Linked DNA regions of Homo sapiens. The protein of the gene in region 1 interacts with the protein of each later gene in a pairwise test. Each region holds a gene or a part of one and is shown in the gene's direction. Other genes may lie near its edges. The genes, in order: NUDT21 and CEP126.

Evidence for each region.
Region 2: the proteins of NUDT21 (region 1) and CEP126 interact in a two-hybrid assay, tested with the Homo sapiens proteins (2 studies listed by BioGRID and IntAct).

The regions. Positions count from the first base shown.
Region 1 is NC_000016.10:56,448,333-56,455,162, reverse strand, and holds the start of NUDT21 (cleavage and polyadenylation specificity factor subunit 5), read left to right. Parts: upstream 1-3,830; 5' UTR 3,831-3,960; coding exon 3,961-4,076; intron 4,077-6,830. Other genes in the region: prolyl 3-hydroxylase OGFOD1, read right to left, coding at 1,755-1,900, 3,397-3,550. UniProt on the Homo sapiens protein: Component of the cleavage factor Im (CFIm) complex that functions as an activator of the pre-mRNA 3'-end cleavage and polyadenylation processing required for the maturation of pre-mRNA into functional mRNAs.
Region 2 is NC_000011.10:101,959,138-101,967,760, forward strand, and holds part of CEP126 (centrosomal protein of 126 kDa), read left to right. Parts: intron 1-2,603; coding exon 2,604-4,743; intron 4,744-8,623. UniProt on the Homo sapiens protein: Participates in cytokinesis. Necessary for microtubules and mitotic spindle organization. Involved in primary cilium formation.

The DNA.
Region 1 (6,830 bases):
ATCTCCTGACCTTGTGATCTGCCCGCCTCAGCCTCCCAAAGTGCTGGGATTACAGGCATGAGCCACTGTGCCCGGCCATCTTCCAGTATTTTTAATCTTCCAAATTGCATGAAGTAAAAATTATTGTGATGTTTCAATTTTAATAATCAGATGCGTATGGCCCCAAATCAACAAGAGGCCAAGGGTGCGATAATCACAACAGCAGGTAACTGCGGTTTTTAATTAACCTGTGCAACCTTACCATGGAAAGCAGTTTAGTTTTCAGCTTTCTGAATTATTAAGAGTCATATCTTTCATGTATTTATCCTGGTTAATTCAGTCATGTGTATAAGGTCCAAAGACAGAAAGATCTGGGGAAGGTCAGGATACAACCATCTGACCAATCAGCTCTAGTGTAAAAGAATAAGAGAGAGAAATTCGTTATTTACTCTCTTATCCCAGATAAAATAAAATGGGAAAATGCAAAAAAAAAAATTATTCTTCATCTTTTTAATCTTTCTTTTTTTTTTCCCCCCCCAATTTGAAGCACAGATGTCCCTGAGGTTTACAAAGGATTCATGTACTGAAAGATATACCCCCAAACTGGGGAAACCAATGACCTGTATTTCTATACCTAGACTAGGCTGTGTCTTCCAGAGTAGAAAAACCAAACTTAAAAAAAAAAAAAAAGAGATAGTCTTTTCTGCCCAATTAAACTGTCCACCAAAAAAAAAAAGAACGGATTTAACGCTTTGCCCTACTGCAATGTAGAGCATACTGTAATATAGCAAGTCACCTGAAACAAAAACATGAACTCAAAACTCTATTTTATTTTGAGATGGTATTTTGCTCTTGTGGCCCAGGTTGGAGTGCAATGATGTGATCTTGGCTCACTGCAACCTCCACCTCCTGGGTTCAAGTGATTCTCCTGCCTCAGCCTCCCAAGTAGCTGGGATTACAGGTACATGCCACCATACCCAGAAAATTTTTATATTTTTAGTAGAGACGGGTTTTCACCATGTTGGCCAGGCTGGTCTCGAACTCCTGACCTCAGGCGATCTACCCGCCTTGGCCTCCCAAAGTTCTGCGATTACAGGCATGAGCCACCACACCTGGCCCGAACTCAAGATTTTAAATGGTAATTGTCTCCCAACGTACAACTCTCTTCATCATCATACCACTTACCCACATGTACTTAACCCCTTTGTTTATAACATACTTACTCATCGGCTTAATTTGTTTCTTCACTATCTCTATCACCGTCACATTCACCCTTATTATTACTTCTGGCCTGAGCAACTGGAAAGATCACGTTGCTATTAACTGTGATGGGGAAAACTACAGGTGGAGCAAATTTAGAGAAGACCAAGAATTCAGTTTTAGACTTAAGTGTCAGACACTTACTAGACATCCAAGAGGAGGTAAAGCCATGAGACCCATAGAAACCTGTGTACCTAGGGAAGACATTATCACTCTCTCCATCCTGCAGATGAAGAAACTGAGAAGTCTTTGAGAGTACAGAGCTTGCACTTTGAACACTAGATTTTAAAGTCTTACAGGGCAGGCACTGTCTAAGGCTTCCATATAATTATAGCACTTAACACATAGTTAACACTCAGTAAGCTTGGTTAAATGAAGGCATGCTCTTAAGAATGTCAATGCAAGGACTGTTCAAGGCAAACCCACCCTAAAACCTCAAGTCTAAAGGTATTCAATGACTTCATAGACAGTGAATTTCCAAGCTGGAAGAGTTAATGTGGCAGGGGAATAAATACCTGCTGGAACTTATATAAATCATTATACTTCTCATGGAAGTCCAAGTTCATCAGTTCCTTCTGAAGCCCTTCTAAGAAGTCTTGGCTTTGGATGAAGTTTGGGATCACACAGTGAAGAAAAGGGTCCATGTCCATGACAATGACTTCTGTTGGAAGAAAAACATTATCTATGGCTTTTTTCCTTTTGTATTTTTGACATCCAAGTAACATAGCAGAGCTAATACAAAAGGGGATGGTCATGAATTTTGGGGAACCTAATACTTAAAGTCTAAGATTTGGGGAAAAAATGATAAGCTCTGACCTTTCTTCTTTACCCATTAAATACTACTTTTAAAGATACCATGCTTACAACTCCAGTCCTTGAGATGAGTGATGGGTGATGTCACTAAATCAAGGTTCCTACTCTTTTTTTTATGTGTTTCAATGATTACATATTGAATTGAATGTATTTTAGATTTTTAATTCATTTCCCTCAAACTTTGGGTAGCACATTAAATGAGAGTAGCAATACTGGTCGGCAGTTTCCCTGCTTTTGCTTTTCCCAAGTTACTGTCAGAGGCATTTACTACTTACTGTACTTAAAAAAAAAATCAGTTCAGTTCGGGCATAACCACCTCTAATTCCTTGATTTCTACCCCAACATTTACCCACTGCTTCCGGCTGGCTAGATCACCATCCTGTAATCATCAGCACCACCTACCAGGTGCCAGGCCCATGATCTCATTCAATCTTTTTAACAGCTCTGAGGGAGACATTATCACTCTCCCCATTCTACAGATGAAGAAACTGAGAGTACAGAGCCTGCACTTAAACACTAAGCTATCGTTTTCTATAGGCATCCAGCCTACCCAGGACTCACCTCTTCAAAGCACTTGACAACGGAAAGAAAAATTACGGCAAACTCTAGAAGGGGATGCCTGGCGCATGAAGCAGAGCTCTGAACACCTAAGGTGATATTTAAAGCTGAGGCTGGAATCGTTCAACGTAGGCGCCTTTCCTTGGTCAAAGCGCGTTTATTTTCATACATCATGGAGTCAAACTACAGGCGCGTAGAGACGAGTACACTAGGGAGTCAAGCTGGCAGCTCACGACAAATGCCCTGGCTAGACTCTCCTGGGACAGCTGAGCAATGCCCTTGCAGGAGAAATGACATCAGCCACTCCTGTATTTGTCCACATGTGTATTGGGCCTTACTCAGGGAAACATTTACTGAAGCCTGCAAGCATTAGTGTGTCGCTCCCATTCACCGACTTTCCGAGGTAAATATTATGAACTATCCCATTTTACTTAGGAAGCAACTGAAGTTTAATAAGGTTAATTCCATTGCCTGGCGACGCCCAATCAGGGGAGAGGATTCTAACTCAGTAATCTTTGACTCCAGAATGCAACTATCTCTTGCATACCCTCTGCTTCCCAAAACTCTCCGGCCTCCATTTCTCCCTCTTCTCACGTTTCTAAATTGCAACCGAATTTGGAGTGAAAGGGAGCAGCAGCCGAGGCAGGAGAGTAGGAGGTGGCCAAAGTCCTCTAAGAGCCTCTTCCCTTGCGGCCCCGCTGCCCAAGGCTGGGCGCGAGTCCCAGGGCTTTTTCAGAGATCCCTAGACCTCTGCGTGGCGGCCCCTCCCTGAGAGCACCCGGTTACCGTGACTGAACGGCGTCCTGCGGCTCCAGGCCTCAGCCACCTGCTTTTTCAAGGTTTCTTCCGTAACAGCGTCCGAAAACTCCGCCATCACCTCCTTCTTTCCCTTTTTTCCCACCCGGGCTGGGCCGGGCTCCGCTGGCCGCTTCCCATTCATCTCTTCCCAAGGCACAGAACCACGCCACGCAGATCAAGACGCTACCTTCCTGAGGGTACTGCAACTCCCGGCATGTCCCCTTTATCGTGTTTCCCGGCCCTACCCAATGGGAAGCACCAAAGTAAGAGAAGGCGGAACCTATACCCGGTTTACCAATGGGAGCTCCAGCTATTGCAGCCATCCCACCAGCAATTGGCCCACTGGAGCTCGGTCTGGCAGGCCACCGCCCCTCTACTTCCTGCCGCCAGAGGCTCCGGGTTCACTTCCGGCGTGCCTACGCCTCCTCTTGCGCTGTCCTGTTAATGGCGGGCAGTAGCCGCTGAGGGGATTGCAGATAACCGCTTCCCGCACGGGGAAAGTCTACCCTGCCTGCCACTTTCTGCTCGCCGTCAGCGCCGGAGCTCGCCAGCATGTCTGTGGTACCGCCCAATCGCTCGCAGACCGGCTGGCCCCGGGGGGTCACTCAGTTCGGCAACAAGTACATCCAGCAGACGAAGCCCCTCACCCTGGAGCGCACCATCAACCTGTAAGTGCGGCGCGGCCTTGGCGGGCATTTCTCTCGTGAAAGCTCCTATAGACTCTCCGACGCGCCCCCGGCTTTTCGGCGCGCTTCACGCCTCTGCACCTCCCCGCCTCCAACTCCCGCTGGCGGATGCGCGCCTTCCTCCCTCTCTCAGGCCCCTTTCTCATCCTCCAGCCTCCAGGGTTAGAGTCCTTTTCTGAAAGGAAGGCTTGTTCCCATCCTATGTATTCGGTCATAATGGGGAAAAACGGAGTTTGCTTTTAACTCATCCTTTCCCCACCTCTCCAGAGGTAACCGACTTCAAAATGTGTGTTTTTTTAATCCTTCCAGTGAATTGTTTATGCTTTCGCATCACGTACATGGTATTGCTTTGTGAGTGTTGATGTGATACGAATGGTATAACCTAGTATCATTTTTGCAGATTTCACTCTGACAGTAAGGTTTCGAGATCTAGCTGTAATGCCTAGGTCTAGTTTTCTTCCTTTTAGGTGCCACTTAATACTTCAGTTTTTGAATACAACACATTTTATTCATGTGCTCAGGGCTGTCTGCCCTGCCCCATGCCTTATGCCTTCGCGTCGTCTGATGTCTCAATGCCGGCATCCCAGGCACCACAAGTAGGCCCCTCCTTGGGAGTAAGGATGCTGCTATGGTTGGGCTTTCAGACTGGAGGGAACCAGAATGTTTGTACCAGAAAACCCATTGTGGGCTGTGTTTTATTTTCAACACCTTTCTGTTTCAACACTTCAAACCATTGCATTTCAAGGTCATTCTCAGAAGCAGACTCGCTGTAGCAGGTAATTGGCGTTTGGGGTGTCTTAATCAAGAAATTGTCAGTAATGCTTTTTAAAATCGTTTCTGAGGATTTGTTTTCGAGGCAACGCGGTGCCTCCATTTTATGCCAGGATGGAGGAAAGTGGCCAGTTTATGCCAGTCAGGGTACAAGTGCAAGGATTTGGTGGTATTGATGTTTTCGTAAGGCAGTTTAGGTGTTTCTCTGTTTCATATTAAAATAAACGGACATTGTCTCCCCGTCCCCCAACCAAAAGTGATTTGAAGTTGAAAAGATGGTTAACATTGTTTTATTTTGCAAAACGTGTTGGCTTGGAAATTTAGATAATGGAAATGCTGGGTTTATAAAATCTGGAATTAGTTGATAGTTGTGTGTATAAAAGTTCTCAGGAGTGGCGGCTCACGACTGTACTCCCAGCACCTTGGGAGGCTGAGGTGGGAGGATCACTTGAGGCCAGGAGTTGGAGATCAGTCTGGGCAACATAGGCTGTCTCTACAAAAATTTTTTTAAAAATTAAGAAAAAATCCATCAAATGGTAAAGGCAAATGTTATCCTTTTTAAAAGTGTGAAAGCACAGCTTCTGGATTACTTTCGGTGGTTATTAGAACTAAAACCCACAGTCTTTTCTTGTTTTGTCTTGATTACTGAATTAATTTGCATCCAACCATTTTGTAGAATTGGCAAAATAGTTAGCTTTCAGTAAGATATTTTAATCTTCGCTCTATTAAAATTATGGGTTGATTTACAGTACATTTCCTCTCCTGTGTAAATACAAATATTCAGAAATAATAATTGTGTTGTGAACTTAAGTTCACCTGAGTTAACATTAAGTTGAAAACAAATGCCCTCTCCCCCAGTATATTTTATTTTAGGAAATATTGCATGAATGCCTACTTTGTACCAGGCACTGTGCACAATACTGGATATACAGTGGTGAGGAAGTAAGGTGTAGCCCCTGCTTTATGAAGCTCACAGTATGATGAGAACAATATGTATGTCTGGGCTGGCACTCTGATTTCACAGGTGAAAATTCTGACATTTCATCTTCACATCTCCTTACTGATATATTGGAGCTGGCTCTTGCAACAGAGATGTGTAATGGCTATCCTTAATTCTTTCTAACTCAGGTTGTCAGAATTAAATGTTAATATATGTAAAGCGTTTTAAAAAATTGCTTGGCACGTCGTTCTATGTAGCATATCTGCTGCTGCTATGGATGATGGTTTTAGATTTAGCATTGGATCTACCGGGGATGTTCTTTAAATTTTTAAAGCATCCTGGAATGGTATATTTTAATTATTTTAGAGCTTTTTCATATGCCTAGAACTTGGCTTCTGGAATTAAAGTAATTTTTAAAGTTTTGGCAACCTTGATTTTTTCCCCTTTCAAGAATGGCTGAGTGGGGTAGATACAATAATGTTGACTATTAATGTCAAGGGCTTTTGGTAGAATAGATACCTTGGATGGGCAAATGTGGCCTAAATTCGTACTCAAAGGCTTCTTGCTGTAAGGCTTTAATTAAGGGCTTACAACATATAAGTATGGATTTTTTAACTATCTTTAAAGAAAAATTTGATCCTTATTAGGCAAGATGAAAACTGTCTTTAACAGTTTGAGCCATATTTTAAATTATTGGTAAAGGAAGAGAGTTTTCGATTAGATATGGTGGGTAGAAGATTCAGATGAGGAGAAGGAAACAATAAGGAGACTGAATAGAATAAATGCCAAAGGCTAGTAAATAGGTTTAGAGGACAAAAAGAGAAAGTAGAAGAGTTGCTGTGAAAAGGAAAGGCTGTGGTGCAAGAAAAATCTGAGGATAGTTGACTGAGAGAAATAGAAAATAACTGGAGGGATGTTGATGAAAAACGGTGGCTTAGTTTTAGGAAAAAGAAATTAGCCATTAGCACCCATAATTAAAACTTTCTGATTAGATTAGTAGTCAGTGGAATGCAGGGGGACATTAA
Region 2 (8,623 bases), on another chromosome or scaffold:
CTTTTTTCTTTTTTCCTTTTTTTTTCTTTCTTTTTTTTGAGATGGAGTCTCACTCTGTCACCAGGCTGGAGTACAGTGGTGCAATCTCGGCTCACTGCAACCTCCGCCTCCCAGGTTCAAGCAGTTCTCCTGCCTCACCTCCCGAGTAGCTGGGACTACAGGTGCCCGCCACCACGCCCAGCTAATTTTTGTACTTTTAGTAGAGACGAGGTTTTACCATGTTGGCCAGATGGTCTCCATCTCTTGACCCCATGATCCGCCCGCCTCAGCCTCCCAAAATGCTGGGATTACAGGCATGAGCCACCATGCCTGGCCAACACTTTCTTAAAGAAGACTATGAAATCTAAATACTCAATAACATAATGCTCACAATGTCAGCATTCAATCAAAACTTACTAGACATGTGAAGAATCAGGAATATATGACGCATAACCAGGAGAAGAGTAGTCAATATAATCAGACAGAAATAACAGAGATGATGGAATTAACCAACAAGGAATTTTAACGTATTTTTACAAATATTTTCAAGGAATTAAAGTAAAAATGTACATAAGAAAGACAATTGAAAAAAGAAATAAACAGACCTTCTAGTTCTGAAAAACATACTATCAGAAATGAAAAATTGACTGGATGGACTTAACATTGCAGTCATTGCAGAACAAAAGATTAGTGGACTTGAAAACATAGCAATAGAAATTATCCAAGCTGAAGCTTTGGGAGAAAAAGGCTGGAAAAAAATGAACAGTTTGTTAGTGACCTGTGAGACCATATAAAGCCATCAACACATTTAATTAAAAATAAAATTTAAATAAAATTTCACAAAGTAGGAATGGAAATGTTTAAAGAAACCATCGCTGGAAATGTTTCAAATTTGATGAAAATTATAAATCCACAGACTCAAGAAGCCCAACAAACTCCAAGAAGGATAAGTGTATGCACACACACATACCACAGAAAGGCACCTAAAAATCAGATTAAAGCCAGAGGGAAAAAAGATATGTTACATGCAGGGCAATAAAGATAAGACGGACCGCTAAATGTAACTTATAAGCAAAACTTGAAATTGATCATAATGTTTCATTATTTAGTGGTGGGAAAAAATCTGAAGAAAAAAAAAGTATTGTTTATGAAATCAGAAGTTGCCAAACTTCTTCTGAGGTGATTTGGGAGATGAAGCAATTACAGACCTATGCAAATGGAAATCTTAGAGCCATGGATGTCATACTTATATCTAGAAGGATCTTCTAACGCAAATTTCTGTGTCTCACTAGATGTAACCTCAAAGGATGCCTTCCAGGCCTGATTTCATCATCATTATCAGTTAAAACAACTTATTTCCAAGAACAGGCATTGAAGTAGCTATGCTTTGTTTTGTTCCCTGTTTGGGTTGAGTGATTATCACTTTAAGAAGTATGCCAAAGGATGTGATAAATAGGGACTAAATGCTAAAAATATAAAACTCTCATGAATAATTTTTAAAACTTATTCCACAATACTAAATCAATAAGAACTAACTATATAAATTAAAATATTTTTATTCTGTAATTTATTTACTTTATTTCTTAGTTTACTTACTGGGATAGAAAAAGAAAGTACTTTTGTCTAATACCATAGTATGTAAATTTTTAAAATTTACATATTTTAGATAAATCTAAAATGTATGATAAATCTTAAGGGATATCAATTTTCTTTCCATTCAGCATTTTGACTAGATATACAATTTAATGTCTTCTTAAAATTTATTTCTATATATGTGATGTAGATTAATGCATGCTAGGTATGTGTGAGAAAACAGAAATATTTTTAAACATTTACCATACATTGAAGTAATTTTGAAATATTATTAAAGACTGACAAATTTCATGTAAATTTCAGTGAAATAGTGATGTAAATGTCTATGGAATTTATGGAAATTACTACTATGCTAAACCTCCAAAAGGAGTCATTAAAGTCAATAGTTTTTGAGCCTAAACCCATATGAAAATTACCTGGGGAATTTAAATAATACCAGTATATGGACCCCATCCAAGTATTAAATCAGCAGGACCCAGGTATAGATATTTTACACAGTTCTTTATGTGATTTTAACATGTAGCCAGAGTTAACAGCCTTACTACAGTCCACAAAATTAAGTTTTATAAAAAGATGTAGCCCCTACTAACAGGAAACTCACATTAGGATCACAGAGCTTTTAGGAGCCTCATTCAAGTCCAGTGAATGTTTTAGGAAAAAAATACAATTTATAAATAATTATTTTTCAGAATCTCACTTTCTATTACTAAGCCTTCAAGAAACTTCATACTCTAAATGGAATAGCAATAACAAAAATTTTTTTTAAGTTCTAACTGTGGCTAGAATAAGCAGGTATTACTTTAGGAGTTGAAATCAAAGCAAGCATACTATACTATAAGTCTTTGTTACCTCCCAATTTTTTACCTTGAGGATTGCTGCAGGGATAAGAATTATTTATATACCTATGATGTTTATAGTCATACTACTCTATATGCAAGGAGAATTGGGCTCAGTAACAATGGTATGTTGAATCGTTAATCTTGGCATTTAAAAGTTTATAAGCTATAAAACAATGTTCTTTTTTTTTCCAGAAATTTTGTGATGAAGTTAATCAGATAACCAATTCTGAAACCCTCTCAAGTATAGACAGTCTTGAGGCTACAGAGCATGAAGAAATATATTTAACACTTAATAAGGAGCATTCCACATCCATCCAGCGGAATACCATTTCCCTCAAACCAGCAAATATGCAATCAACTAATCTCAGCTGCTTTGATGAAGATAAACTGGCATTCTCTAAAACTCAACATATAAATAATTGGCTTACAAATTTAGATGCTTCAAATACTCAGAATGTCACAGCTTTCTCAGATATTTTAAGTAAATCTAATGTTCTGCCTTCATGGGAATATTTTAATAGTAAAGAACAAAATCCATCTCCTTTGAATGGAACAGTGGAAAGAGCCACAAATACTGCTAATAATTCAGTACCCTTTGTATCTAGCCCACCCATGTTTGTACTAGATAAAAAATGTGAAAAGACCTCTGAAACTAGCACTATGAGGACAACTGACTCCACTTCTGGAGCATTCAAAAGAGAGAGACCATTAGTTACTGAGAGCCCAACATTTAAATTTAGCAAATCCCAAAGCACTTCAGATTCTCTAACCCAGGAAGTGGCTACATTTCCAGACCAAGAGAAATATTCTGAATTAAATCAAGAAAATGGAACTACTTCAATTCCTACTTCATGTGTACCAGTGGCAACGCCTTTAGTTTTGCCATCTAATATACAGTCAGCTAGACCTTCAGCAAAGAACAGTATACACATAAAAGAAATTGATGCAGTGCAGTGTTCTGATAAGTTAGATGAATTGAAAGATGGTAAAGAAGAAGAGATAAAATATTTTAATTGCAATAAGGAAGAGTTGCCTTTATTTTCAGACAGTTTTCAAGATGCCTATATACCTCACAATCCTGATTCAAAAGATGAAAAACAAAAATTAGCTGAAACATCATCCTTGTCTAATGTAACTTCTAATTATGACTTTGTTGGCCAGCATAAGAAAATGAAATACAACATCCATGAGAGAAATGGTGTGAGATTTCTTAAAAGTATTTTAAAGAAAGAATCTAAATATGAACATGGTTATCTTAAGGCATTAATTATAAATCAGAGCTTTAAGTTTGGAAATCAAAAAGCAGCAGCTATCAGAGATAGTATTGAATTAACAAAGGAAAAAGGTGCAGAAATTCCAAAGACCATTAAAAAACTGAGGTGGTTTGATGAAACTAGCAATATAGAAAACAATGCTGAAAACAGTCATTCACTGAAGAATAAAACAGGAACAACTCAACAGCATTCTCAACAATTCCACATTCAAAGTGGTGCTGGAAGCAACATAATTAGTGTTTCTACTTGTGCTGTAAATTCTGCTGATACAAAGAAGTCCAGGGAGGATTCTATCTCTGAAAATGTTACGACTTTAGGAGGATCTGGAGCAGACCATATGCCTTTGAACTGTTTTATACCTTCAGGTTATAACTTTGCTAAACATGCCTGGCCAGCCTCAAAAAAAGAAGAAAGTAAAATCCCTGTACATGATGATTCTAAAACTAAGCAAGGTAAGCCACAAAGAGGTAGAGCAAAAATAATTAGAAAACCAGGATCTGCAAAAGTCCAATCAGGCTTTATATGTACAAACAGAAAAGGCGCTGTCATTCAACCACAGTCTGCAAGCAAAGTCAACATATTTACACAAGCTCAGGGAAAATTAATTATACCTTGTCCTCCTCCTCAATCTACATCAAATATTAGAAGTGGTAAAAATATACAAGTGTCTCAGTGTCAACCAGTAACTCCTGAAAATCCTCAAAACATTATTACACATAACTCTTTTAATTCAAAACATGTGCTTCCAACAGAACACAGTTTGAATCAGTGGAATCAGGAAAGTAGTTCTCCACTCTCAAATGCTTGTTCTGACCTAGTCACTGTGATACCATCACTGCCATCATATTGTTCTTCAGAGTGCCAAACTTTCGCAAAAATAAATCATTCAAATGGCACTCAAGCAGTTGCCCGGCAAGATGCGACATTATATTGCACCCAAAGAAGTCCTGTTTGTGAAGAAAGTTATCCGTCTGTGACTCTAAGAACTGCTGAAGAAGAATCAGTTCCCTTATGGAAAAGAGGTCCTAATGTCCTGCATCAAAATAAGAGGGCTACAGGTAAGAATAAATTTATAGCTTTTTATAGATAAAATGTACACCTTTGTTAAAGTCATGTGAAATTGTTCCTATTTATGTATGGCCATACATACTACATAAATATTAATATTAAACAATAGCTTTATAGAAATAACTTACCTCCAGGCCAAGCACAGTGGCTTACACCTGTAATCCCAGCACTTTGGGAGGCCCAGGCGGGCGGATCACTTGAGGCCAGGAGTTCAAGACCAGCCTGGCTAACATAGCGAAATCCCATCTCTACTAATAGAAAAGTTAGCCCGGCATGGTGGTGCGTGCCTATAGTCCCAGCTACTCGGGAGGCTAAGGAAGAAGAATTGCTTGAACCTGGGAGGTAGAGGTTGCAGTGAGCCGAGATCATGTCACTGCACTCCAGCCTGATGACAGAGCAAGACTCTGTCTGAAAAAAAAAAAGAAAGAAGTAACTTACCTCCTGTAATATTGTGATTTTTGGCCAGGCACGGTGGCTCATGGCTGTAATCCCAGCACTTTGGGAGGCCAAGGCACGCGGATTTACTTGAAGTTGGAAGTTCGAGACCAGCCTGGCCAACGTGACGAAACCCTGTCTCTACAAAAATACAAAAATTAGCCGGGCATGGTGGCGCGTGCCTGTAATCCCTGCTGCCTGGGAGGAGGCAGGAGAATTGCTTGAACCCAGAGCCCAGGAGGAGGAGGTTTCAGTGAGCCAAGGTGGTGCACCACTGCACTCCAGCCTGGGCAACAGAGCCAGACTCTATCTAAAAAAAAAAAACAACAACAACATTGTGACGTTAGTAGCTGAATCCTTTTAAGAGAATGACCCAACCAGTGCTCAACTGAAATTAGAAACTTTTGCCAGCCTCCATTTTTTTCCATGACTTTTCCTGTTAGTTTAAGAGGAAGGACAAGGAATAGGATCTGATTCTTGTCCCATATTATTCTGTCATTACTATTGTAGTCAAATTTTCCAACAAAGTAAGCACAGTGAAAAATATTGTTTAAATTATTATAAACAAGTGAATACATGTAGTTATATTTATTTTTCTTTAAAACTTTTGTTAAATTGAGTTGCTATAAACTAATATTAATTAGATATACCTAATTCTCCCATTCTCTTTCCCAAAGTGTGGTAGCTCTGCTTTTATCTGCTATGACTATTGGTTTTTGTGAGAGCAAAAAAATGATATCATTGTCTTGAAATATTTTTGAAAATTAATTCTCTATAGAATGCCATTGCCCTTACTAGCTGGTCGACTCTCATAAAACTTCTTTCCTTCTATGAAGGAATAAACTAGAAAGCAATATATTTTCCTGCCAATAGGAAACAGTTGCCTATTGAGAAATAGTTAGGACTGGAGTCTGGAGGCAATCAGAAAAACAACTCTTGTTTTTCCAAAGGTATGAATAAATATTGATATATAATGAGAGTTTAAAATTTAATATTCAAAGTCATCTTCAATTAAACCATGAGTTTTTAAGGCCAAGGGACATTTGTGTAATTCATCACAGTATCCCCAGATCCTAACAGTGCCTGGCACTTAGTAATCACCCAGACTCTACTTGAATTGAATGGATAGAAGCCACATTAGCAGAAGGGAAGCTAAATGCAGACACTATAATCTAAAAATCTTCATTACTTGTCTACAAAAATCTAGATTTTAAAAAATTGTTTCTCTCACTAAAATTATGATTTTTTTATCCAGTCATTTCAGAATGTAACTTTAGCTTTCACAACACTTCAAAAAAATGAAGGTATCGTACAGATTAAATATTCTAAAATAAATAATGATAGTTACCCTTTTTGAGTTTGTAGCTTGTACCAGTCACAGTACTGTTTTATACTTACTGTCTCATTTAAACCTTGTAATAATGCTGAGAAATAAATATTTTTAAGACACTGTTTTGCAAAGAAGTAAGCAGAATTATCCAAGGTCAAGAGCTAGTAAATAGCAGAATTGGTATTTTGATCCAGATCTCTATGGTTCCAAGTCCTGTGCTTTTTCTACTAAAATCATATAGTAAATATAGTGATAAAGCAAATATCATATATCACACTCTGCTAATTAGGAAAAATATTAGGAAACTTATAGTTTCCCAATAGCTTATGTACAAAAGGGTAACATATTAAAATTATCTGATTCTCTGATAAAGGAATGGGATACATTTTATCTGGAGAAACCAATATTTTCCTGACATTTAGTCAAAGGAGGTAGTTCTCTCTGGGACATTCGTATAAGGGACATTGGAAAATGTAATGAATTTTAACATTCTTAAATGTTCTTAAATATTCACACTGTTGTAAATATCTATACCTATTAATACAGCGATTATACTTAGAAAATATAACAGTACTAACAATACTGAATATTTTGTATGTTCAGTCATTTAAGCTTTTTTTTCCAAAACTGTTTAAATATAAAATGCTTCAAGTGAACTCTTTGTTAATACTGGATTACAGTTCAGTGAGCATTTGTGGGATTTTTTTTCCTACTCTCTTATTTGCAGTTCATTTTATTTTTATACCCTTATGCATCCAGAGTTGACGATTGTGGAGAGCATCTTGTTCTCAATTAGCATTTCCAGAACACTCTAGCATAACTCTCTAGGAAAAACTCTTCCAATTAGATCCAAGCCATTCGACTATACCACCTCCTGATGTCTCCAGTTATTTCCCCCCTAAAAGATGACTTTGATATTTGGTTCACAGTCTTCATTTCCATACAGAGTCTTTGCCATCATATTGGATAGTTCAGCTTTTATATGGATGAGCAAACATCCTGATCCCTCTCACTCCTTTTTCATCTCTAATAACTTTCTATACAATTCTGCCTCAAATACCCTTTCCCTTTGTTATATTCTGGACCTCATCAACATTCATAACTCCTCTACTTCTTTTCTTTATTTCAGCTTTTATTTTAGATATAGAGGGTACATGTGGATGTTTGTTACATGGGGATATTGCATGATGCTAAGGTTTGGGGTATGGATCCTATTACCCAGGTAGTAAGCAAACTCACTCACTCCTCTACTTAAGCACATTCTCCTCTCTTTTCCCTACTCTTACTCCTACCATTCTTCTACCCTACTGGGCTTCTTTAGTCCAGTATTTTCTCTACTTTCTCATTCCAATTCATCATCTCTTTCTTTCTTTTTTTTTTTTTTTTTTTTTGAGATGGGGTCTCACTTTGTTGACCAGGCTAGGGCGCAGTGGCGTGATCATGGCTCAGTGCAGCCTGGGACTCCTGGACTCAAGCAATGCTCCCATCTCAACCTTTCAGGCACTACAGGCACACACCACCATGCCCAACTAATTTTTTTATATAGAGACAGGGTCTCCCTGTGTTACCCAGGCTGGTCTTGAACTCCTGGGCTCAAGCCATCTTCCCACTCAGTCTCCCAAAGTGCTAGGATTATAGGCATGAGCCACCGTGCCTGGCCAGGTTCATCATTTCAATAGTTCTTTTACCAATATCCTAAACTCTTTGCCTCTTGGTCTTTTTTGTCACAAGAATCAAACAGCCCTTCCCCGCCCAGGGGGAAAAAATTATTTGCTTTTTCTCTGCCTTCTTCTAAGTAGCAGAGAAAATTCATACCAATGTGCCAGGCATATTGGCTATACTGTAGATTTATGAAACATTTTCTGATGATCAACATTACTGAGTATTCCTACTGTTTATCTCGTAAATTCACTGTCTTTCCTTAGAAATAATTATTTCAAACATCCTCCCCAAATATCTGATTTCCCTACTTCCCTTTCCTCATCAGATACTTTCACTGCTCATTTTTCTCAAACCTACATCAATGGGAATAAATATCCAAAATGGGAGGAAAAGTTGTAGTTAGAATACATTAATAAACTTATATAAAAATTTAAAATATGTAA